3 separate regions of the Homo sapiens genome follow, and regions 2 and 3 are each linked to region 1. Evidence: fine-mapped expression QTL. A gene starts in region 1. Each other region holds a variant in brackets. All regions are shown on one strand. Distances are between the middles of the regions.

Region 1 (8,180 bases):
TTTAAGAAAAGAAAGTACTTTAAAAAGAAAACTAAAAAAGCCATTTGAACAAAGAATTCATTGAATTGAGTGAATAATCTCCAAATCCACCACTAAAATGACTGGCTCTTCTCTCTGGAGTTCCTCCCCACCCCTAGCGCTATCCCCAACTTCACCCTACACACAAATGTGCGATACTGTCTCTAAACCATCTCTTTGCTATTATGTCAGCCTTCTGCTGAAAAGCCTTCAGTAACTCTCCACAAGATAAAGTCCACATTCCTAACCTTGTTTTTATGGCCCTCCATAATCTAAAACTGACCTCTCCATCCATCCCAGTCTACTACTCCCTGAAAAACCACCATTCCAGCCAAACTAGTCTCTTCAAACACTCGAGTGTTCTGGTTTCTTCTGGTTTCCAATATGATAAGGTTCTACTCCTTATCACCAGTGAGTTCCAAAACTTTCACAAACCTCCTCCACTCTAACATACAAACCCTTGTCCCTGGAAAAGTTAGAATACTTGTCACTAAATGTTTAACCTTGTCACAGGTATGTGTCTATATCCTTTGTTTCTTCAAGAATTTAGCACAGTGCAGGAAGGAGTTCAAAAATGTTCCTTAGATTGAAGTAATTTCAACTACAGGACAGTAAACTCAAGGGCAAGGGCCTCTACCCCATTATAAATCCGTATCTAATTCCAGTATTTAGCAAATTATAGGTGCTAAATATTTGCAGATTGCTACCTAATTGAATTCAGCAGTAAGCCTTCAGGTCGCATAGGCCTCAAAACTCTAAATATTTATGGAAGACTTCAAAGCATCAAGCCATCAAAATTACATATTGAAATCTTCCAAGAATGTAATGCAAACAGGAGACACCGTGCAGGGCAATTAAAAATAGAAATCACTTAAATACACACTTCTCGAAATGCTCAAAAGGTCATTTTTGTAAAATAAAATATAAAATATCTGGAAATATAAATAATCTGACCTAGTGGGTTTTATTCTTTCTGTAGATCCTCCACCCAATGTCATCCCTTGACTCTCTGATGTTATACAAAAGCTCAACTGGTTAGATGAACCATTTACCTAGACTGCAGTTTCAAATAACCTCATCAAGCCATTTTCAAATGCTGCAGAACCTTATTAGTTCCCCTAAGAGGTAGACAGGGGAAGTTGGACGCAAAAGAATAAGACCTGCTCAATTTTCCTATAGCCACGCCCTAACCAGTGAAGAAGAATTAAATTCAGGTCCCCTGACTTTAGTCCAAGGCTCTTAGTCTTTGATAGGAACTAGAAGTAAACTTTATGGAGCAAGCGGGAAAAGGCATGTGAGCTACAGCTGTGTTCCTGTCACCTTCTGGGAAAGAATTTAAACATAAATTCTTAATGAACATAACGAGAAAAAAAGACACTTCCCAATTACTCTCAAAGCATGATTACAAGTTATGTTTCTTATGCTAAAGGACGAGAATCAAAATGAGTAAGATACTAATTCACAAATTCAAGAAAGTCTACAGTCTGGAGGAAAGCTGACATCTGGCCCCCCAGATGCACTGGCTGCTGCTGGAACCTAACGCATGTGTCCTGATGGCAGGAAAGCTAATATGCTGTCACAGAAATAGCTTTCTACCAGTGGCCAAACTGGCTTTGCCCTCTGCCTCTCTCCACACCTCTCTAGCTCCAGAGGGAACTACTACAACCAATGAGAGAGAAGGTACATTCTCCCGGCCACTGACTCTGGTTAACATCAAGTTACAGAAAGAGTCCTCAGTCCTCATTCTCTCGTGTTCACTCTGCACCCCCGCTCCCAACTCCTCCTTTCTATGCTCACTCCTCCATATGTATAGGCGCCCCCCTACTTCCCACCCAACACACATACCAGATGCCAAGGGCCTGGAGAGCCCTCAACCAAATAAGCCCACTTGTCACATGTCCCAGAGTCCCATTTCTGATTCAAGCAGCAGAGACTTAAAAACAAAACAAAAAAACCCTAAGTGAGTCCCAGTCCTGATTTTGCAACACCAAAGAGGTCAGAGAACCAAAAGGAACCTTGGAGATCATCCAGAGAAGTTGAGTGACTTGCCTCCAAAATTACAGGGATGGCTCACTAAATTCTTCCCACAGAAATGTACTTCAACTTATTCATTAAATGCATATTTACTGTACCAGGCACCATGCTGGGTGCCCGAGACAGTATAATCAATATGTTTTAATCGCCCTTACTGAAAAATGGGGCGGGGCGCGGTCGGGAGAACAGTGAGATGGGGGATTTTCCCCAGAGGTGGTATCTACAAACAAATGTACAAGGGACGAATACCTAAGGCTGAGAATTACTGAACTGAGAATCTAGGTGAGTGATGAAGGCCCTAAGAACCCAGCCCCTCAAGGCTGGATACTGCCCAAGTCCCTGTCTGCTGTATGGACAGGTCTTTTAAAGGGGGAAAGGGGACATTCACCGCCATCCTCCGAAGGGGTTATGGATCCAAGGGATGGTCAGGCTGCCCAGCTCCTCACTGGGGCTAATTCCGCCCCATTTTCCAGTAGCATCACTAACTCAGTATTTCTGCATGAATTTTGGCCCCTTCTCTCCTAGAAAGACTCTCCTCAACTACACTAAAATACAGTTATCTCTCCTGTATCTCGTGTCTTCTTCCGAGTTTAAGAGACAGAAGTTCAGGGGAGGAAGGCACCAAGCCTAACCGGGGTGGAATTCCCTATTTGCAAGCAGTGCCCGCCTAGGCTAGAGGGCAGGCTGTCCGCTCACCCTTCCAAACCCCAATCTTTGAACCCTCCTCAGCACGGCAGGGGAGGAATGTGCGGAAGCAGCATAAAGCCAGGTGGACTTTCTGGTTTGGCACGTGAAGGACCTGGAACAGGACTGTCGGGGAAGATCAGACAATGAGAGGGAAAAGGTGAAGCTTAAGGGGACTCTGGAAAACTCAACACTCCCGCAGGGTTTCAAAGAATCCCCAAGAAATTTCTTTTGAGAAGTCACAAAACAAAACTAGGCAAACAGATGCCTCGGTTTTGTAAGAGATTGTGAGTAGCTTTAGGCAGCAATGAAACCTGACTCCGGGCCAGGAGTGCCTAGGGTCGGTCCAGCGGAGCGCGCATTCAGCGAGGGGTGTTCGGCCGGGGCCAGGCGGGGCCCAGGCGGGGCCCGCTGGCAGCTGGTTCCCGCCGCCGCAGAGCCGCAGGGGCGGGAATGGGGACTCGCCGCGCTGCCTCGAGGAGGAATGATTCCAGGGACCCCCCGGGGTTCCGAGAGAGCTGGGCTGGTCCGGAATGAATTCCCCGTTCCTCTGGCTGCTGGCCCCGGACACAAGACCCTCCGTCTCCTGCCGAGAGAGGCTCCCCCAGCCGCCTCGCCACGCCGCAGCCCGTCCGCGCCCGCGTCCCCGCTTACTTTTCGTCGCAGCGATGAGGTTCTTCCCGTCCTTAATGAGCTCTTTGATGAACTTGTTGGTCCTCTCGAGTTCCGCTTCGTGAGCGCGGATCCTCTCCCGGAACCACGGGCTGTCGAGGTAGCAGTCGCTGAACTCCAGGGGCTGCAGCCCCATGACGGCAGCGGTCGCTGCGCGGTGCGCACGGCCGCGCGCTCCTGCCCGAGCCGAGCTCCGAGGCCGCTGCCAGGTGCGGCGCCGCGCGTTCAGGGAGCACAGAGGAGCTAGCAGGCCCGGGCGCGCGGCGAGCGCGGCACGGACATGTCCCGTAGAGCCGAGTCCTGCGGCGCGGAGGAGCTGCCACCGAGACCAGCGCTAGCTGCGGCGCCCCAATCCCGGCAGCCCCCGCCGAGCTCTGAGCGCCCGCGGCCCCGCCCCGCCCGGCCCCCGCGCGGCAGACACTCCCCGAGGCGCCACCCGGCCGGGCCCGCGCTCCCGCTCGTCCCCTTCTCTTTCCTCCGCCTTCCTTCTTCCTCCCTTCCCTTCCCTGGACGCCTCTTCCTTCTCTTCCCCACGCGCAGCTGCCCCTCCTCTTCCTTCCGAGGCGTCCTGGGGCTAGAATTTCGCCCCGCGGCTCCCCTCCACCCTGGGCGCTCTCCCCTCCCCTTTGCTTGGGCTCCCGGGGCCGGGGTGACTCACAGTCGGCTCCCCGCTGCACGGAACCCGACCGGGACCGAGAAGGAGCGTCTTAATTGCAGTCGTTAGTCCCCGCAGGCGGGCGACATAACTCTGAAGTGGCTGCCTTGCAGGAGATGATTAACTCATTTATCTCATTTATCCTGGGACGCCCCCAACCCCGAGCTGGGAACGAACTCGCACAGGGGGCTCTTTTCCTTATCCCGGTTCCTTTCCCAGTTTAAAGTGAGATGCGTGGTAAATCTCCGCTTGAGATCGAAGCCTTACAATGGCAAGAGCGTTTTCTTGGTGGCCCAGCAGCTCCTATTACACTTCTCTGCGTATCCGCACTAAATAACTTAGTTGAAGAGAGAGGGCTGGCTAAACCACAGAAAAGTTGTTTCTGTTGTGTTCAGCACATTAAATTTGCTGGGGTAGGTGAAGACGATCTTTATTATTCTAAAAATAACTACCGGAAAACATGCCAGGTAACGTGTGGTTTTCACCGCGTGGGGGTGACGATCAATGAGAATTTATGTCAGTGCCCTCAAAAAGCCTATTTTGTGTGTTATGAAACAACTCCAGTGTGTCCCAAAAAAAGTTAGGCATTTTAAAGTATTAAAATGTATACCTTAGGCCGGACGTGGTGGCTCACGCCTGTAATCCCAACACTTTGGGAGACGGAGGCGGGTAGATCACCTGAGGTCAGGAGTTGGAGACCAGCTGGCTAACATGGTGAAACCCCGTCTCTACTTAAAATACAAAAAGTACCCGGGTGCGGTGGCACGTGCCTGTAGTCCCAGCTGAGGCAGGAGAATCGCTTGAACCCAGGAGGCGGAGGTTGCAGTGAGTCGTGATGGTGCCACTGCACTCCAGCCTGGGCGACAGAGCGAGACAATGTCTCAAAAAAAAAAAAAAGTATTTCTTAAAAAAAAACACTAATAGTTCATTAGAGTAACGTTTCATAATCGCAATTTATTAAGCAATTATTATGTGCCGGGCACCCACTAGGAACTCCATACATCTACAAACTCGCGATATAGACTTACATGATATGATGGTAATATTAACGAGAAACTTCAAAGTAATTCCTCAAGACGTTCAGACTCTCAGCTGGGTAATTAAGAATCTGTTTGGACAGCATGTTGTAGGAGGGTAACCCTCCCGAACAAGTTAAATAAGCCTCCTACTCAATAAGCCCTTTTGTTACAAAACAGCACCAGGAGTGCCTAACCCACAGATAAACATTATTACTCTAATGTCCATCCTCCAGAGAGTTCAAAGTGTTTTACAAATAACTTTTAGGCGGTGAAAGCTTCAGTTCCTACTAAAACCAGCAGGAGACTGGAGTCTACAGAAAAGAGAATAAAAGAGGCAAATAAAGGGGAAGAAAGACAAGAAGAGAGGGGGTGTAAACAAAAATGAGGGCCTAGCGAAACAGCCAAGCACTGACCACACTCAATCCTCAGAGCAGAAACCCAAACCTTTTCTCATAGAGGGGCTGCTGAGACTTCTTCAATATTGAACATGGAGGTTACCGTGTGACCCAGCAAGTCCACGCTTAGATATATACCCAAAAGAAATGAAAATATATGTCCACGCAAATATTTACACACAAATATTCATAGCAGCATTATTCGTAATAGCCAAAAAGTAGAATCAACCAAAATGTCCTTTGTCAGCTGTGTAATGGATGCACAAAATGTTTGTCCATAAAATGAAATATTAATCTACAATAAAAAGGAATGAAGTACTGACACGTGCTACGGCACAATAACGGTGAAAACGTTATACTAAGTAAAAGAACCTAGCTGCAAAAGGCCAATACTATCTACTTATATTAAATGTCCAAAACAGGTAAATCTATAGAGGCAGAAAGATTAGTGGTTGCTAGAGACTGGGGGATAGAGTGGAGGGTATATGTAGTCAGGAGTTTATTTTCAGGGTGATGAAAATTATTAATATTTTTATTTTTCATAGAGATAGGGTCTCACTATGTTGCCCAGGCTTTTCTCAAACTCCTTAGTTCAAATGATGCTCCCACCTTGGTCTCCCAAATTGCTGGAGTTATGGGAGTGAGCCGCCGAGCCTGGCCGAAAACAATTTAAATTTACATTTTGGTAATGGTTGCACAATTCTGAATATACTCAAAATCACTTAATTGTATGTGATAAATGGGTGGATTTCTTTTGGTCTGTGAAATATATCTCAATAAAAAATTTTTTTTAAGATGAACTACTCTAGAACTGCTTCTCCTTTACCACATTAGACTTCAAGCCGTAAAAACTCTGGTTTATTCAGTGTGCCCAGTTCTTTAGATATTTGGAGAAAAAAAAAAGTTGTTTAAAACAATGTCAAAACATCATAAAAAATATTACTTATCACTTCACACACATGTACACCCAGTGTTAAAGAGCTAGTGAATATGAATCTTAATTCATTACCAAATAGGTCCACAATAATTACCATGAGTGGAGGGGCCTGATTAATTTTGTTTTATTCAGCTATGCCTATGCAGTGTCTGGTATACAAGTGATCAGTAAATGTGGAATGAATAAGTATAACTAACTGAAGAGAAATCTCTGTACAGTGGACAGTGGAAAGATAGATATTTAGTAGTTCCAGCTCCAGCTTTACTACTTAACAGTTGTGCAACCTTAGCAAAGGTAATTTTCTGTAAACCTCAGACTTACCATCAGTGAAATGGAGATGATGACATTGCAGCTGCAGGTTGCTTGAGAAGATTTAATGAAATTGTGTTTGTAAAGTGCCTGCTGAAAATTATGATAATAATGAGACTCAAGGAAGAAGGAAGTGTGGAGGATGGGCTGAAGAGAGGGATGAGGGAGAGGAGGAGACAGATTACATTCCATCAATGTGGGAAAGATTTTCGGGGCAGGAGAGCCCTTAAATCATGGTTTTAAACCATGTAAGACAGAACTCAAGAAAAGTGGCCACAAAAGCAGATGCTACTGAGTTTCCAGGTTTCATCTTAATTAATCAATTATTCCCACAAATATTTACTGATCATTTATATGTATTAGGCACCGTATTAGGTGCTCATGATGCAGCAGCACACAAAACAGTCCTCACCGTGCTTTTGGTCTCTGGGGGAGACTGGCCTCATCCCAAAAAAAAAGAAAAAGAAAAATCACACACATATATATCCAATTGAAAATTGAAGCACCATGCAGTTAAAGTGAAGGGTGTGTGAGAGATTATAATTGGAACACCTGATGGAGATTGGGGCTGGGTCAAGGAAGGCCTCATTGAGGAAGTGATATGAAAATGATAATTTAATCAATGACCAGGAATATCAGTAGGAGTTAACTGTTAAATAGGGGTAGGAACAGAGTAGTACAGACATGGGACCAGCTTGTGCAGGCCCCTGAGATGGCACACTCAAGAGATGAACAGGTCGGTGGCTGAAGCCCAGTGAGAGAGACTGGCTCACAACTATGCCAGGTGGTGGAGGATAGGCAGGGTCAGATGGTGCAGAGCCTCTAAGTCTTATTTAGGATTTGGGACTGTATCCCAACACTGTTGGGAGCCTTTAAAGAGTTTTATGCATGTAGTAAAATGATCCGGATTGTGTTTTCTCTCTAGCTGCTGTGTGGAGAATGGAAATCCAGACAGAAGGTGGTTGGAGTTGTCTGGGCAAGAAATGGAATAGCTCAATCCTCCAAGGTGACCCTCCAAGGAAACAGCGAGAAATAGACAGAAATGAAGTATATTTTAGAAGGAGATTCTGGGACTTGACAATAGCCTGGATATTGGAAATGAGGAAGAAGGGGTCAGCGGTGGCCCCCAGGCTTGTGGCATGGTAAGTTAGGTGGATGGATATGCCACTTACTGAAAGGATAACATGAGGTAAGAAGCTGTCATGGCAGTGTTGGTGATGACTGGGTTGGAAGGATGCGTTTCAGTATAAACTCATGAAATGTTTGAGATGCCTGGGAGACATTCAAGTACTTAAGTCATGTAGGCACTGACACCCAAATGGCATTTTTATGCTTTACTCAGTGCTTGGATTAGTTAGGGATTTGAATCAATGCAAGCTGGTCAAGTTTCAGTCTACATGAAATAGAGGTTAACAGATAGGAAACCTTCCCTTGATGTAGGTTCTGCTGCATACCAT
Region 2 (8,180 bases), 110 kb before region 1:
GCTCTGCTTGGAAACAAAAGGAAGCTTCTTGAACATGAAATAATCAGATGCTCTCTCCTCACAGCAGAAGTCAGCCAACTTTTTCCATAAAAGACCAGGTAGTAAATAATTTAGGCTTTGCAGCCATGCAGCTGCAGTTCCAACTACTCATCTCTGCTGTGGTAGCACAAAAGCAGCCACAAACAGCATATGAATGATGGGTCCAAGTGTGTTCCAACGAAACTTGACTTACAAAAAGAGGAAGCAAGGTAGGTCAGGCCCATGGGTCACTGTTTGCCAAACCCTGCCTGAAAGGATCATCTTGAGTATCATGGCAAAACAATGCTCTTACGCTTATCTTGTATTTTTAAAAAATATACATTTACAATATTTGCAGCCAATCAGAAGTTGGGAAGGAAGAAGGAATGCTGGATAAAAGAATCACAGTTCAAGGAGCTCTCGAGCTAAAGAGAGGGACTCAAAAGTAGCGCCGTTAGGATTTGCCTGGGATAAGCAATCTACAGGATGCTGAAAGGCAACTGCTCAGGTGTGCAAGATGTCTCGAGAACAGGTCACATGAATTTCATACTGGGCTCAAATCTCCTAAAATGTTCTCTTAACTGAAAGTTTAACATAAGCCAATGGAGCCACAAATTGACCCTGTAACATACACTGATGACACATACCGCCTGAATCCAAACAAGGTAAGCACTCGACTGCATCCCCCGTTAGATTAGAGCTTACCTCAATAGCATGGTTACCACATTTTAAAACAGCCATTTCCAACTGGGGTAAAGCAGGAATGTAACCAGAATGCTAAAAAGGTTTAGGAGGAAGAAATAAAAAAAACTAGATGTTTCATGTGAGTGGGGAGGAAGAGAACATTTAGTGGAAACATGAAAGCTGTCTTTAAATATTTAAATGGGTACTGCATGAGAGAAGAAAAAAAATCATTCTGATTTGCTTAAAGGGAGCAAAGCCAGGTTTGATGGGTAGAAGCTGCAGAGTAGCAGATTTGGGTTTCCTATCATAGGGACTCAAGAGAACTATAATGAAACAGGCTGCCTGGCAAGGTGGTGACCTCCAGCTCCCTCCACATAACCAAGCAGAGACTAGATGACCCATGACCAGGAATACCCTCTCACACATGCCTGCACTGGGAGAAAGCTGGCCAAGAGGACAGCGGAGGTCCTCATCCATCTCTATCAATCTGGGATTCTAAATGAGCTGGGAGACACAGAAGTACAAAGTACATTTCCATGCTGTAGTTTTGAGAATCATGCTACAACAGCAAACTAGAGAATCCATTAGAACTTCACAATTCAAAGTAAAAAGAGTATTATGTAACAGTGTGGAGGATTAAAATGTTTCCCACAATTACTCAAGTCTGAAATCCTTTTTCGTCAGACATTCGGATGTAAGGATCTTAAATGTCTAAAAAGGAAAGGAAAGTTATGTTATCTTAATCTATCCTCCACAGTCCACGCTAGAGCTAAAAAATCTGTTGAGAATAACAACCAACCTGCAGAGAATCAGACTCCACTGTGGGGAGGAACCACTCCAACAACTTTACATTCCCCCACACTGGAAATCAAAGTCTAAGTTCTGATGTCATAAATTCTAAAGACAATAGGACTTAGGGCTATAACCCCATACCCAGTAAAAACACAACAAAGGCATACCTACATCCTATAGTATCTTTAGTAACAATTTTCTAAAGTCTCAGTCTAGGTAAAACTGAGTAAGTCAGTATAACTACTAAATCATGCCTTTCTAATCACTCAGTACTAACAAGGATAGGCTGAGTATAGTGAAACAGAAGGAATTTTACATCCGTTCCCCAGAACACTCATTATTTTAAGCCTGGATTCCACGTGTTTTTGACCCCAGAGGAATGCATAATCTGAGAACAAAGGAATATCTCCCCTATTTTCTCCCATGACCTTCCAGATACTTCCCATTTCATTAAACTAAAGGGAAAATTCTGTTTTCCAATTCTAATGTCAAGAATAGCAGCAAAGAAACCATTCAGCAAAAACACAGCTCTTGTTTTTCCTTGAAACGGAATCTTAAATGGTGCCTAGAAACTTTATATATACATAGACAGACAGACAGATAGATAGATAGATAGATAGATAGATAGATAGATAGATAGATAGATAGATACGATAGATCTAAACATAAAGGAATCTTTTTCCCAAAATGATCTGTTAGGAAAAAAAAGAACTTGCCTCGTGTAAGAGTTCTTAAGAGTCTTCTAAAGGAGTGGACTTTCCCATTATTTTGATCAACAACTGTTTGAGGAATCTTAGCCTAAAATAGCCCTAATCACATTTAGTTTCAGATACTTAGAGATTACAAACAGGACTAAGTTACAAAAACAAAGGGACACTAAGAAATTTAAGATATTTAGTTACAATTCCAGAGATGACTTCAAAATTTTGTATTCAGTAATTTTATAAAGCTCACTTTAAAAGGAATAAGATCAGTGGTTACATTAAACAAATCATAGCCTGGGCAACAAGGCATAAACCCCATCTCTATAAAGAATACAGAAAATTAACTAGGTGGGGTGGCATGCATCTGTAGTCTCAGCTACCCAGGAGGCTGAGGTGGGAGGCTAGTTGAGGCCGAGAGGTTGAGGCTGCAGGGAGCAGTGACTACACCACTGCACTCCAGCCCAAGCAACAGTTAGACCCTGTGAAGAAGAAGAGGAGGAAGAGAAATCATGGAAACATATCCCAGAGTTAAGTCTTTGGTGTGTGTGTGTGTGTGTTTTTTTTTTAAGAGACAAGGGTCTCACTCTGTCACCCAGGCTTGGAGTGCAATGGTGTGATAACAGATCACTACAGCCTCGAAATCATGGGCTGAAACAATCCTCCTGCCTCAGCCTCCTAAGTAGCTGGAATTATGGATTCAAGCCACTGTGCCAGGTTCAGGAATAAGTTTTTTAAAGAGACTGTCCAAATGGGCTGCTAACATATACTTTTGGCTTGAGATAAAATTTCCAGTGAAAGCATCAGAAAGATTTTAGGTGCTATAGCTCAAAGAACTCAGGCAGATGTGGCCATCAATGCTCTGGAAAGCTGTACTGAAAAATTCAGAATGTATCCATGATGAATATACTAATCTCAAAGGTGCCAAGAGCTGGGACAAATTTTTTATTAAATAAGTGCAGAAAATGTTTCTAAAATATATGCTGACTTTGCCTATTATTTGATTTTAAATATGGACACATATTTAATCAAGTAAATGATGAAGGGAGACATCTGATTATCTAGCAGATGTACATATGCATACCTAAAAGTATACGTGTTCAAGTTGTCTGAAACAATTTTATTATGTTTAATCTTCTGGGAAAATAATGTTGTCTTACAATCAGGCACATACAGGAACATCAGTCCTTTTGGGCTGCCCAGCACTTGAAACCCCTTCCTATGTTTGAGGAATTCTCCTTCCCACTGAAACAAAGTCCACCTCCCACCATAAAAGCCAAAAATGACAGACACTGGCTTGCAGTAAGGTAATGACACCTAGCTAGGGTTCCACTAATGAGATGGTCCCATCCAAGACTTGGATTCAAAAGCTACTGCTTTAAAAAAAAAAAAAAAAAAACAGTGACCAGAGATTCTAGCGAGGTGGCAGCAACTAGTCTAATTTCCAGAGGCAGCAGTTCTTCCAACAGCCACAGGGCAGTGAGGCTCTTGGTGCAAACTGTAGTGTCCACATCCAGTAGCAATAGTGGCATCTGCTCTAAGCCCAGCTCTGTGGTACAACCTGGGCATCATTCCTGGTTCCCCACATCTCTTAAAGATACTACAAGAAACCCAATACCCTTTAATGAATTTCCTTTATGTTCAAACTAGCTAGTGCTTGCAATTGAGAATCCAGACTAATAAAGGATTAGTATTTTTTAGAATTTCAGAACCGTATAAACAATCTTGACAAAATGCTTTCGTATTCTTTTCTCTATACTCCTAACACAAGAGTTCCCCTAATTAAACCAATTCATTATCAATTAATTACATCACTCTCCCTCCACACTCACCCTTTGGTACCTCTTTCTCCATCTATCCAGCCTCCCCCGGCCTATACCTTCCCCATCATTCTAGGCTCAAGTTTAAATAGAAAGATTAAGATGGCCAATAAAGTTCCCCCACTTTAATACCTGACATAAGAGAAAGAACAAGAGTCAAAAGACTAATGTTGACAAAAAGTGAAAAAGTTTCACAATCGATTTCGCTACGAGGGCCCTCCAGCACGGAAAAATAGGAGGCCAACGTGTTTTCATTTTGGCTCTGCCCTAACTAGTTCTATTTTTAGATGACAGAAAATAACAATTTCCTTTTGTTACCTGAATATTCTCAACTATAAAGCCAGGAATAATACTTTCTCCCTACCTAAAACAATTTAAAAAAAAAAAGGCACATCATACTTGAAGCAATTGTAACTTCCCAACAAATCCCAGTATGGTATTTTATTTTCAAGCACAGCTCAAGCTAATCTAATTTTCCCAGTAGAGAAACTAATGTAAAAACGAAATTCAATTTTATGATGGCAATAGCTCACACTCATTAGCTAAGTACTAGCTTACTTGGTACTTAGATTTAAGGAACCCACGCACAAAGCTCTAACTGGGACACAGGTGCTCAGGTGCTATAAATTAATTCCACAGGGTTCAAACTTGAAAATCAGGAGCCGATTAATAGGAAATGGCTGTTGAATAATGCCTCATTCTTTCAGACCAAAGACGACTCACATAATAAGCTAGAAACTATGATTTTAAAGTATATATCCCAAATCGACTAGTTCAATTATCACACTTCTGCTTTCATACAGATAATCCAAGAATAAAATGTCCCCAGTAAGAATTTTATCAACTTTCAATCCTGAACTGTGAAAAACTTGAAACCTAGTCCTATTAAAGAGGATTAAGGCTGAAATTCTGACAACTTCTGGTCTCTGATTTAATTCCCTGAATATCTGCCTATGACCTGGCTCTCTCAAAAAATAAAAATAAAAAAAAAGGTCA[A/G]TGTATCACCAAAGTCTACGATTCTCTTAGTATCTATCTTCTACGAACAAGTATGTTAGGGTGTGTTTGCCTCCCACAAAAGAAAAGCTAGCATCCATTCTGAAGGACATTAACTGAAAAAAGATAGCAGAAATTTTATTCAGATTATTTAAATCAAACACAATCTACCTGTAAAGATTTGTTTTTAAGTACACTTAGGAAAAAATGAGAATCATAAAACAAAAGCTACTGAGTATTTAAGGAATGAGTCTGCCTAATAAGGATATGCAGCAGATGCTGAAACTTGATCTTCCTTCCCTCTGTGCATAAGGGACAGTAAGAACCTCGCTTCGATATTTTAAACAAAATAAATACTTGGGAAGAATATTATTATGAGAGGAAATAAAAACCCCATAGAAATTAAAGTTTCATGAGGCAATTTTGAATTTTTTTTTTGTTTTACATAAGAGAAAATTTTAGTTTCTGAAGTGAATGGTATGACTCAGTGGCACAGCTAGAAATGGAACCTCGTGCATACTAAGGCAATAAACTGTTAAATCAAGAAAATAAAATAGGCCAGGCGCAGTGGCTCATGCCTGTAATCCCAGCACTTTGGGAGGCCAAGGCGGGCAGATCACCTGAGGTCAGGAGTTTGAGACCAGCCTGGCCAACATGGTGAAACCCTGTCTCTACTAAAAATACAAAATTTAGCCAGGCATGGTGGCACATGCCTGTAACCCCAGCTACTCAGGGAGACTGAGGCAGGAAAATCTCTGGAACCTGGGAGGCAGAGGCTGCAGTGAGCCAAGATCCTGCCACTGCACTCCAGCCTGGGCGACAGAGCAAGACTTAAGGGAAAAGGAAAAGAAAAAGAAAAAATGTGAGAGAAGAAAAGAAACATTCAGAAAAGAATGGCTTTAATCAATGACAAAAGCTTTTCTTTCCAGCCCATCTGTGATGCACGGGTTAAGAGAAAAAAGTGGCAGTCAACAGTAAAAAACAAGGGCTGCAGGGTTGAAAAACTCTTGGGAACTCATTCTCTACCAGGCGGCCACTAGCTGAGCACTCTGGACAAGGGTTTCCTCATTGTATCCTCAGGTGTGAGAACACGGTGGCTCATAGTAGGCACTCAAAATATTTATAAATGAAGTGGGATTCTCCTATAAATTTAGATAATTTAAAGAACAGCATTTCTACATAAAAGCAACATTTTCTGCTTATAGTGATAATAGCAACCGATGAATGACAATGCTAAGTACCCTGAATCTTTTACTCCAAATGGTTCATTTTTGTTAGTCCAGGTCCTCTAAGAAGCAGACACCAAGACAGGATGAGACACACAAGAAATTTATTAGGGGAAACATCTGTGAGAGAAAATGGGGAGGGAGCCAGGGAAGACTGGAGGGGCCATCAGACAGTGATGCAGGTCTGACCCAGGGGAAGGAGACAGGGAAGGAAAGCAAGCCGGATGGGTGGGTGTGTATGGGTGTGAGGGTGGGGGCAGGTGGGTGGGTGTGCGGGTGGAAGTGGGTGGGTATGTGTATGGGTGTGGGTGTGAGTGTGGGTGGGTGGATGTGTCTGTGTGTTTGTGTGTGTGGGTGAGGCTGCAGTGCCATTCTGGGGTAAGTCTAACAAGGCTGCCGTTAGAAGGCTTGGGACATTCAAACAAGTTGAAACTTAATCCCCAGTCTGGCATTATTGAGAGGTGGGGCCTTAAAAGATGAATGGATTCATCCACTGATGAATTAATGGGTTAATGAATTTTATTAATTTTTTTGAGATGGGGTCTCACTCTATCACCCAGACTCTAGAGTGCAGTGGCACAATAATAGCTCTCTGCAGCCTCAACCTCCCAGGCTCAAGCAATCCTCGCACCTCAGCCTCCCAAGTAGCTGGGCCTACAGATGCGTGCCACCACCACACCTGGCTTCCCCCTGCCCCTGCAGAAATGGGGTCTCATTATGTTGCCCAGACTGGTTTTGAACTCCTGGGCTCAAGCAATCCTCGTGCCTCACCTCCCAAAGTGCTGGGACTACAGGTGTAAGCCACCATTCCCAGCCTAATGAGTTAATGGATTAATGGGTTATCACAGGAGTAGACTGGTGACTTTATAGAAAGAAAAAGGAAGAGAGACCTGGGTCCCCCACTCTTGGACTTCTCAGCCTCCATAACTGTAAGAAACAAATTCCTTTTATTTACCTAGTTGCAGGTATTCTGTTATAAGCAACAGAAAACAGACAAAGATAGGCAGAACGTGGGAGGCATGGCTTTCACACTAACACAACTGTACCACAGAGCAGCTGGGCCTGATAGTCAATGTCACTCCTCCTTCCTCTATCTGAGAGGTGCCCATGGCTGCCACAGCTTCGAAACCATATTTTCCCACTACATTGGCATTTTCTTGAATATCTAACACAATCTCTACCACCAACTTAATATATATATCATTGAATCTAATCACCACCAACTGTAAAACACTCCATTATTTTATATCCTACCACAAAAAAATCCTGCTAATCTTGAAATAATAGCTTAACACTTAGCACTTTTATATACATTGAAAAAGCTCTTTGAAAGGTATGTTTTCATCATGTATCCCTCTTGTGCATAAAGAAGTAAGCAAACTACTTTTGTTAAGATATTTCTAAAACTTCTTCAAAGTCCAACTCCTCTGAATCACTTTTCATCTCAGTCATCAAAATCTGGTTTTTCCCACATGAATTAGTCTGTTTTCACACTGCTATGAAGTTACTGCTTGAGACTGGGTAATTTATAAACAAAAGATGTTTGACTGACTCACAGTTCCACATGGCTGCAGAGGTCTCAGGAAACTTACAATCTTGGCACAAGGGAAGGGAAAGAAGGGCACGTCTTACATGGTGGCAGGAGAGAAACCAAGTTCAGGGTAAACTGCCACTTTTAAACCATCAGCTCTCGTGAGAACTCCCTCACTATAACAAGAACAGCATGGGGAAAACTGGCCCTATGACCCAATCACCTCCCACCAGGTCCCTCCCTCAACACATAGGGATTACAATTCAAGGTGAGATTTGGGTGGGGACACAGAGCCAAACCGTATCACCACACATATTTTTCCTCTGTGCCACTGAAAATACTGGAGATGCATCATTTCTTCAAAGGGTGCTCTTAAGGAGCTCCATTCTTGTATCCAGGATTTTCTTCCAAGATG
Region 3 (8,180 bases), 340 kb before region 1:
GAGCCTGGAAAGGCATATAACACTTTCCATGCCTCTGACTGAATCAAGTTTGCTCCAAGCCCATTGGCCAAAGCAAGTTGTGAGGTCAAGCCCTGAGTCAGCCTGAAAGGACTCCACAAAAGGGCATGGGTTTGGGGAGGGGTGAAAGATCAGGATCTTTAAATGTCTACCACACTAGTAGTTACTGAGATATTTTGCTGCAGCATGTATGTTGCCAAGACAGTGGTTTCCAAGTTTTCCCTAGTCTGAAAAAACCCCTTTATATGGATCTCCATGCCCTGAGCCAGCCTGACTGAGGGTGGATGGCAGCACCTGTGAAAACTGGCCTGGCTAGGTCTGATCCTGCTGCTCCTGGCATGGGAGCTGCTCCACCTTGCAGTGTTTCCTTAGTTGCTAAACTCCACAAGGAAGAAGGAATCCAGACACCAAGGCATGGCCCTGAGCTGCCATGCATTCACTGCCCAAATTTAAAGTGCAGGTCTCTTGGGCCAAAAATAGGAGTTCTTCCAATCAAGTTGATCTTCAGATAGAAAGTGTTTTCCAAGGTATTCTTCTAACCGATAGATTGAGATACTTTTAGCTAGACATTTAAGTGTCAGAATGAGCTGGGCTGCCCAAATGAGGTAGCAATAAATTACTGCTCAGGCCAGTCAAGGAGGAAGAGTGCTGACAAGCAACTGAGAAGACATTTGCAGAACTAGGAGTGGGAGAGCTGTTTGAGGACACACTCCTGGAACAGCATCCTCAGAGTGGACAGAGGAAAGCTACGTGGCTCAAGAAGATTCAAGAAGTCATGGAAAACATCTGGCCAGCGAAGGAGTAACCAGAACTGGCTTTGAGAGACTGGAAGGGAGAACTCCTAAGAAGCTGAGAAGATGCCCAGTCTGGAGGTGAATGGGAACAAAGGCAAGTCCAAGAGAGCAGGAGCCTGGAGTGGCGTTGGGAAGGAGGGGAGAGGCTGAGCAATGTCAGCAAAGGACAAGAGCATGGAATGGCTTTTGGAGAAGAGATGCTGGCAGGAAGCAGGCAGTGATTTACAGATGAGAAGGGGGACAGAAACCGACCCCCAACCACCACAGTGTCCTGCTGCCTTGCCTTCTCCAGTCCTCTCCATTTACTAAACCCCACTTCCTACCATGTGCCCATCCAGCACAGGACATTCACTCTCATTTAACTGTCACATCCCACAGGTTGCTTCTCCTCTTTCCATTTCACTGGCACAAACAGAACCATAAAAAGGTCAAGTAACTTACCAGAGATCACCAAGATATAAAATAGCAAAAATAGGATTTCAAAACAGCTTGTTTGTAATGCAACACGCACTTTTCACCACTGTATTACGTTCATAGAGCTACTGTAACAAAGGACCACAAATTGGGCACCTTAAACAGAAATGCATTTTCTCCCAGTTCTGGAGGCTGGAAGTCCAAGATGGAGGTGTCAGCAGGGTTGGTTCCTTCAGTGAGGGCTGAGAGAGAAGGGTCTATTCCAGGCCTCTCCCCTTGGCTTGTAGATGGCTGTCTTCTCCCTGTTTCTCTTCATGTCATCTTTCTTCTATGTGAGTCTGTCTCAGTGTCCAAATTTCTCCTTGTTTTAAGGACATCAGTCATATCGGATTAAGGCCAACCCTACTGTGCTCAGCTTAACTAGCAACATCTGCAAAGATTCTAGTTCCTAATGACATCACATTCTGAGGGACTAGGGGTTAAGGACTTCAACATGTGAATTTGGGGAGTGGGAAACAATTCAACTCATAACAGCATGGCCCTGAGGACAAGATGGCACAGCAGAAAGAACTTTCTGTGACTAGCTTATCGAACCTGAGCAAGCAAGTGCTCGTCTCCATTTTCTCATCCATAAAATGGGCTAATATCTCCTGGCTTGTGCAGTCATTGTAAGGAAAGAATGAGTTAGACATCCATCTCTGGCATGGACACCCATTGCTTTTCCCTTCCATACCCCCAACTGCATGTGTGGCTGCTACTACAAAGGAAGGAAGTTGGGGCTGCAGCCCCTGCAAGTCCTTTGGCTCTGTTTTCACCTGGCATCTCCTTTACAGGTGCAGGGAACACCAGGGAAGGCCCTGTGGGTGGCACCATCAGATGCAAGCCCTGCAGCCCCAGTGTCAACAAGAAACACATAGCCCAAGTGCTCTTTTTTGCCCCAAACCACCATACTGCCTCTGAATGAACACAGGCTATGGACCTGGTCTAGGCAGGCGCAGTTGGTGCTGCAGTCGCTGAGCAAGGTAGGGCTGAGGGAAGTCCAGGCAGCCTCAGCAGAGCCTTGGGGAGCAGCCGCACCCATCCAACTAAAACAGCAAAACATACTCCGCTCCTCTTCTAGGGGAAGGAAGATGATCCACCAAAGTAAGAAAACACCTCCTGATCCCATTCCTCAGTACATCCTGGGCCATGTCCAGGGGTAAGCTCCCTGCCCAGAGGCCTTGGCAGTCCTGGCCACACTGCTGTGCACGTGTCACATTCTCAGACAGAAACACCCCTGCTCCCCTCTGGCACTACCCCACTCTTCCACAGAGCCACAGGAGGGGTCTTCAGCTCTTAAGGCTACAGGAGCCTCCACAGGGCACAGCTGTAGAACTTCACTACTTGTCACCCCATCATCCTAAGGAACACAGAAGACCCTGATGACAAAGATGCAAGATACTGCTATTCTTATTCGTAGAACTAAGAAAAACGGGAACAGCAGTTCCTGTTAGCCAAGCCCTCCCCACATACTGGGTGCGCTGCTTCTATTAGGTCATTTCAACCCCAAACCTCTCAGTATCATTTTATTTTTAGGAGGCTTTAACAGAATCATGGGGGTAACCGATCTTGCCCAAGGTCACATAGATAGCCAGACTTGGTGGTGATTTCTTTAAGTGGTGGTAAAAGCACTTTGAGGGGAACGGCTGGTTGGGTGCATCTCACTGTTAACAATAGGAATCTCCAGCAAGCAAACAAATCAATCAAGGCCTGATGCAGGGAGATTTTTAATGGCCCCTGGGATACACCAATTAGGAATCTGCCAGGAAGCCACTCCCAACACTAACCTGAGCCTGCTCTAGCTGCCCACAGGTTTGCCTTTTCCTGCAGAGGGGCTCTCACAGAAGTGGAACATGCCAGAAACCTCTTCTCACGAGTCAAGTTTCCTTTCTACATCCCAAGCAACAAGTCAGGGCAGCAATGACAACTCAGAAAACAGGCTACTGGAGGTTATGCTGCCCCAGCCCTAGGGCCAAGCCAGCCCCGGCCCACACCTCAGACCCGCTTGTGGTAGGGTGGCCCTGGGCTCCTCTGTGGTCTCAATGCTCTTCACGGGGCCCGTGATTATTTTAAATTATGTTGCATCGAAATTGTCCTTATTTTTATTTACAATACGGACACTTTTCAAGAATCACATTTCCCCATACACATACAACTCCCAAACTCCACACCCTCACGTGATCCACATGAGGTGACTTCCAAGCTGTTAACTGGCAAGCTCTTGAGTCAGTTCATCTGGGGATGAGGCAACAGACACATCCGTCCTTTGATAAATGTTTGAGAGAAGTCTGACAGGTCCAGGAACCTCCCATGGGGATGCATGGAAAGTCATGCCTGCCCCAGAGCAGCCTCTGGGGCATGGGGCTGGCTTCAGAATCCTGAGGCCACTAAAACTAAGCCCCACATTCCAAGGCAAGTCCCCTCTTCCCCAAGAGGTTGTTGCACCTGTGGCTTGTAGGTGGAGGAGAATGAGGAAACATCAGAGCAAGGCCTGCCCAGGCTGGGGGTGGCCATCATCACGGGGCAGGGCAGGGTCAAGGGTGAAGGCTCCTCCAGGAAGGTCTGCTCTGCCTCCCTCTCCTCCCTCCACGTCGAAATTAATCCAGATGGAGAGATTAGCAGGGAGGCCTGGAAGGCAGAGGCATGCTGGGTGGTGTAGGAGAGGGGTGTACAATGGTGCTGGTAGGACGGCTGGTCCCAGGGCACTGAGATGGCTCACACAAACCACCCAGGGCCAAAGCCCCAGCCCTGCTCCAGGTCCTGCAGGCACCAGGGTAGAGAGGCCTGTGCAGCCACTGGAGGAGGTGTGAATGCCCTTCCAGGATTGCACACATCAGAGGCTGCTGCTGCCCCCAGGAACACGCCCCACCCCGAATACTCCAGGCTCCCCGCTAACAGATTCTACCTGTGAGCAGGCCAACAGCAGAGAGAGACGAGTCCCCATCGTAGGCTGCCAATTCATAAATCAAGACGGGGCAATGACTTCCACGACCGCTTCCCCACATTAGGACAGACAAATCAAATAGTAAATTACAGTTTATTTCATTTACAGAGACCTTGAGGCAAAAAGGTGGTGTTTGGAAAACAGCACAC[G/C]GGTGAGGAGCACCGAGAAGCCTGTTACAAATACGCCAGTGCACGCTGCCAGTGCAGTGAGTGTGGGGTCCTGCAGGTGGCCGTCTAGGAAGGGCAGGCTTGAGACGCGCGTCTCTGCTTCCCTCTGACTTGAGACCATCTCCCTTGCACCAACAGCAGCTTCTCCAAGCTAGGCTGCCACAGCCAAGCACACACTCTGCAAACCTATCACTGCGAGTAGTACAGTTCCCTTTAAAATCGCAGCAGCAGGTGCTCAGGGAGGAGAGGGAGCCAGGGTGGCTCTGGTGGCGTGACTGCCAGTGGAGGCGACACAGGTGGCAGAAGGCTGCCCTCCCTCTCATTCTATATGCTGGATAATTAAAAATCACAAGTCCCAATACTTGACAAATGAAAAGTCCATTTTGCGAATCCTGACATTCCCCTCCTGATCCACAATCACAGTTCTGTGTGGTGCGTCCCATCCCTGCCCACCACCCCCCACCCCCAGGGCTGACTGTGATGATGGTAACTCCCAAGTGTGGAGGTACCTGTGGGTGCAGCCCAGAGCCTCGGAGGAGGAAGACAGCTCTCTGCCCCCAGGCAGGTCCCTGGGTGCCAGGGTCAGCAGGGGCTCTGAGGCCAGGAGCTACAGCAGCTTGACGTAGTTCTGTGGAATCAGCCCCCTCTTGCCGTTCAGAGTCCCTTCTAGCCAGCCAGGTTCCCTGGAGGTTTGTACTGAAAAGGAAGAGAAAAATCACTTTTACAAAATGCCCCCAAGTACTTGCCTCCTGGGTGTTCACTTAAAAGCTCAAGCAGGGAGTGGCCAGTAGAGAACAGGGGCCACTTCTGGGATGTTGGGTCACAAAGTCTGCACCAGGGTCATTGACAGGCTCTGCCTCCCTGCACTGGCCACCACAATCCTCATCTACACAATCCCAAAGCAGCCTCCTAACTAGTGTCCTAGTTTCCAGAGTCCGGCCCCTTCCAATCCACTGTGCACGAACATGCACAGTGAACTCTCTAGAACACAGAGCTGATCACATCACTCCCCTGCTTAAAGTCAAACTCAAGCTTTTTGTGTTTTTTTTTGTTTGTTTGTTTGTTTTCTTCCTGAGAGGGAGTCTCGCTCTGTCGCCCAGGCTGGAGTGCGGTGGCGCGATCTCGGCTCACTGCAATCTCTGCCTCCCGGATTCAAGCAATTCTCCTGCCTCAGCCTCCTGAGTAGCTGGGATTACAGGCACGCACCACCATGCCTGGCTAATTTTTGTATTTTTAGTAGAGATGGGGTTTCACCACATTGGCCAGCCTGCTCTTAAACTCCTGACCTCAGGTGATCCACTCGCCTTGGCCCCCCAGAGTGCTGGGATTACAGGCGTGAGCCACCACTCCCAGCCTCAAACTCAAGCTCCTTACTGGTCTGTAACACAGGCCCCTGGGCACCTGGCTCCAGCCGCCCCTCCAGGAGCTCTTCACACTCCACTGGCACATCATGCATGTCAACTGCAGTGAATCATCCAGAGAAATCCCAACTGCAACTCCAGGCCTTTGCAAGTGCAGTGGCTTCTGACTGGAATGCCTTTCCCCCACCTCTTCACCAGGTAGTTCCTCCTGTTTAGAGACCTGATTGGATGCCTCCTCCTCTCAGAGTCTCGTCTGACTCCCACACTGTATGGGAAACTCCTGAAGGCAGCCTGAGCCTTATACATCTGGGCATGGTGCCTGGCACAATGGACTGTTCATAAATATTCACGTGATACTCAACGAGAAAATTGCAGCCTGGACAGCAAAGGGCACAGGTCCAAGCACTCCTCACCAGTGTTCGGAAATGCAATACAGAAGCATTTCATAACCCCCAGCTGTGAGCAGGCCCCAGCTCAAACCCCCAACCATGGTCAGGTGCAGGCGTGGCAGCCGTGGCATAAAGGAAAGGGGAGGCATGAGCTACTCCAGCGGACCAACTCGAAAGGTGGCTTCTGATCACAACCCAGGAGAATAATTTCATATCAAAAACCAAGTACAGGCATACACATCCGTAACACACACAAGTTTCATGAAGCAATACTCTTACCCTCACTGCGCGCATGCAATGCCTTCCTTTCTGTATTCTACTCTTTTTTTCCCCATAGATTTGTGTAGAAAAGTATTATTCTTTGAATGCTAATTGCAACTCAGCGAATTGAGTTCATGGTCCTCTAAGGTATAGCTGCCCACAGTTTGGAAGACAGGGACAATCCAATTCTAATTGTCCTTTGCAACAAGGTAACTGTTTGTTCTTCCCTCCCCTGGATGAATAGGAACACATTCCGGCTGTCTGCAGACTAACCGCCTGCACTTTCCTTACATTCAGTAAGCTTCTGGCTTCAACGCCTCCCTGGAGCTGTTCCCTTGGGCCTGAATGCTATTCCCTGCCTTTATGCCTGGACAGCACCTACTCATGCTTCAAAGAGCAGCTTCAGCATCCCCCCACTTCCAGGACTCCTCTCCTGGCTCCAGACCAGGTCGGGGCTCCCAGTTATGCACCCTACATGTTCTGTGTGCGTGTGTGCAGGCATACGTGTATATATAGGAGAGACACACTGAGACATTCTCTTCTAGTCCAGACTATGAGAGCATGTAACACATATAACATGAGACCCAGCACCTAGCACCGTGTCAGACACATGATTATCTGTGTAATGACTGAGTAAGCAAATTCAGAGATGTGCTCTCAAAGCGATCTGGCAGCAAGTTACTTCCTTCATGCCTTCACTGACCTTGACTCTGACATTGTTCTTCATACCAGGATTTTTAGAGACTTCTCACTTCATCCAAACACCCCAGCTGGCAGTGCTACTAGTGTGCAGCCACCATCAGGGAAAAGCTTTGGATTCTATGCAAAACAGGCCCTCAGGGTTGTAACAATGTGGGGGCCTGAGTGGCAAGGGGCCCAGGGCTGAAGTCAGAGCCCTAGAGGAGACTCCTGGCTACCTAGATGCATCTGGGAAATTAACCCCTGGGCCTTGCTCGGCTGTTACCTGCAATACGGGGTTACTAGCACTTAGCTTGCAGGACCTGCTATGAGGAGGCAGTAAGAGAGTCTCAAATATAGTCTCACCTGCACATGCTCACTATTTCTCCTCCTACCCTATACACACCACACACTTGCGCAAGCACAGACTCGGTATTAATAAAAGACAGGATGAACAGAGGAGGAAAAAGGTGATTTTCTACAACGCTGGAGGTGAAAGGAGGCTTGATTGGGGAAACCAAGGCCAGGCCGGGAATCCTGCATCTCCCCAACCAACAAACCAGAGAGACGCCTCCACAACCCCATTCACCACCTCCCCAGCCCTCCCCTCCCTGGAAGGCAGAAGCCAGTAGGGAGAGAGATGTCACTGCTTTACAGAGGCGACCAAGGGGGATCCTGTAACATCCAAGAGCCTTGGAAGTGGACCCAGCTGAGCAGTGGGCGAGGTGGGCTACAAGGGTCTGGAGACCAACAGCAAGGCATCCCCAAGCACAGGAAAAGTGGCTCCGCAGTTGCAGATAAGGCTGGCAGGCTCTCCCTCCCTCTCTGAAGATCTGACCTCTCTCAGTAGCATCGAACCCCAAAATACCCATCTGGGGCTCCTCTCCTAGTTTATCACACCACTCCTCCCCCAAGCAGTGTCTACGCGGACAACAGGGCTCTGCTTTTCCATTCTTATGGGTGGAGAACATGGCAGTCTCAGTGTCTGTCATTTCCCACGCACCCTCCCTATGCCTGCAGGTCTCAGTCCAGGAACCTCACCCTGCTTCAGCCACGGTGTCCTCACAGCCTTTAGACCACAACAGGGAACAAGACGGGTGTGAGGCAGGGACCCC

Alleles and levels. Alleles are on the strand shown, and positions count from the first base shown. SD is a standard deviation of normalised expression in the study named. Not every link is listed here.
For the expression in tibial artery of the gene that starts at base 3,758 in region 1, allele C in region 3 goes with a lower level than allele G (small effect, 0.20 SD a copy in GTEx).

What was found.
Region 2: its variant is fine-mapped to the expression of ARHGAP10 in whole blood (TOPMed, PIP 0.91).
Region 3: its variant is fine-mapped to the expression of ARHGAP10 in tibial artery (GTEx, PIP 0.98).

The regions. Positions count from the first base shown.
Region 1 is chr4:147,727,666-147,735,845 of GRCh38, reverse strand. It overlaps ARHGAP10 (Rho GTPase activating protein 10), which reads right to left and starts at 3,758. Exons shown (of 23, transcript NM_024605.4): 1 at 3,391-3,758. The coding sequence starts at 3,544. RefSeq lists enhancers at 1,714-1,843, 2,972-3,041, 2,362-3,254, 3,255-4,147 and silencers at 3,152-3,231, 3,542-4,061.
Region 2 is chr4:147,833,058-147,841,237 of GRCh38, reverse strand. The region is part of intron 3 of ARHGAP10 (Rho GTPase activating protein 10); the gene reads right to left. Among named protein-coding and RNA genes, the nearest start is that of MIR4799, 55 kb to the right of the region's middle. The variant A/G (reference allele first, on the strand shown) is at 5,012.
Region 3 is chr4:148,068,885-148,077,064 of GRCh38, reverse strand. It overlaps ARHGAP10 (Rho GTPase activating protein 10), which reads right to left. Exons shown (of 23, transcript NM_024605.4): 23 at 4,289-5,072. The coding sequence ends at 4,984. Among named protein-coding and RNA genes, the nearest start is that of MIR4799, 290 kb to the right of the region's middle. The variant G/C (reference allele first, on the strand shown) is at 4,359.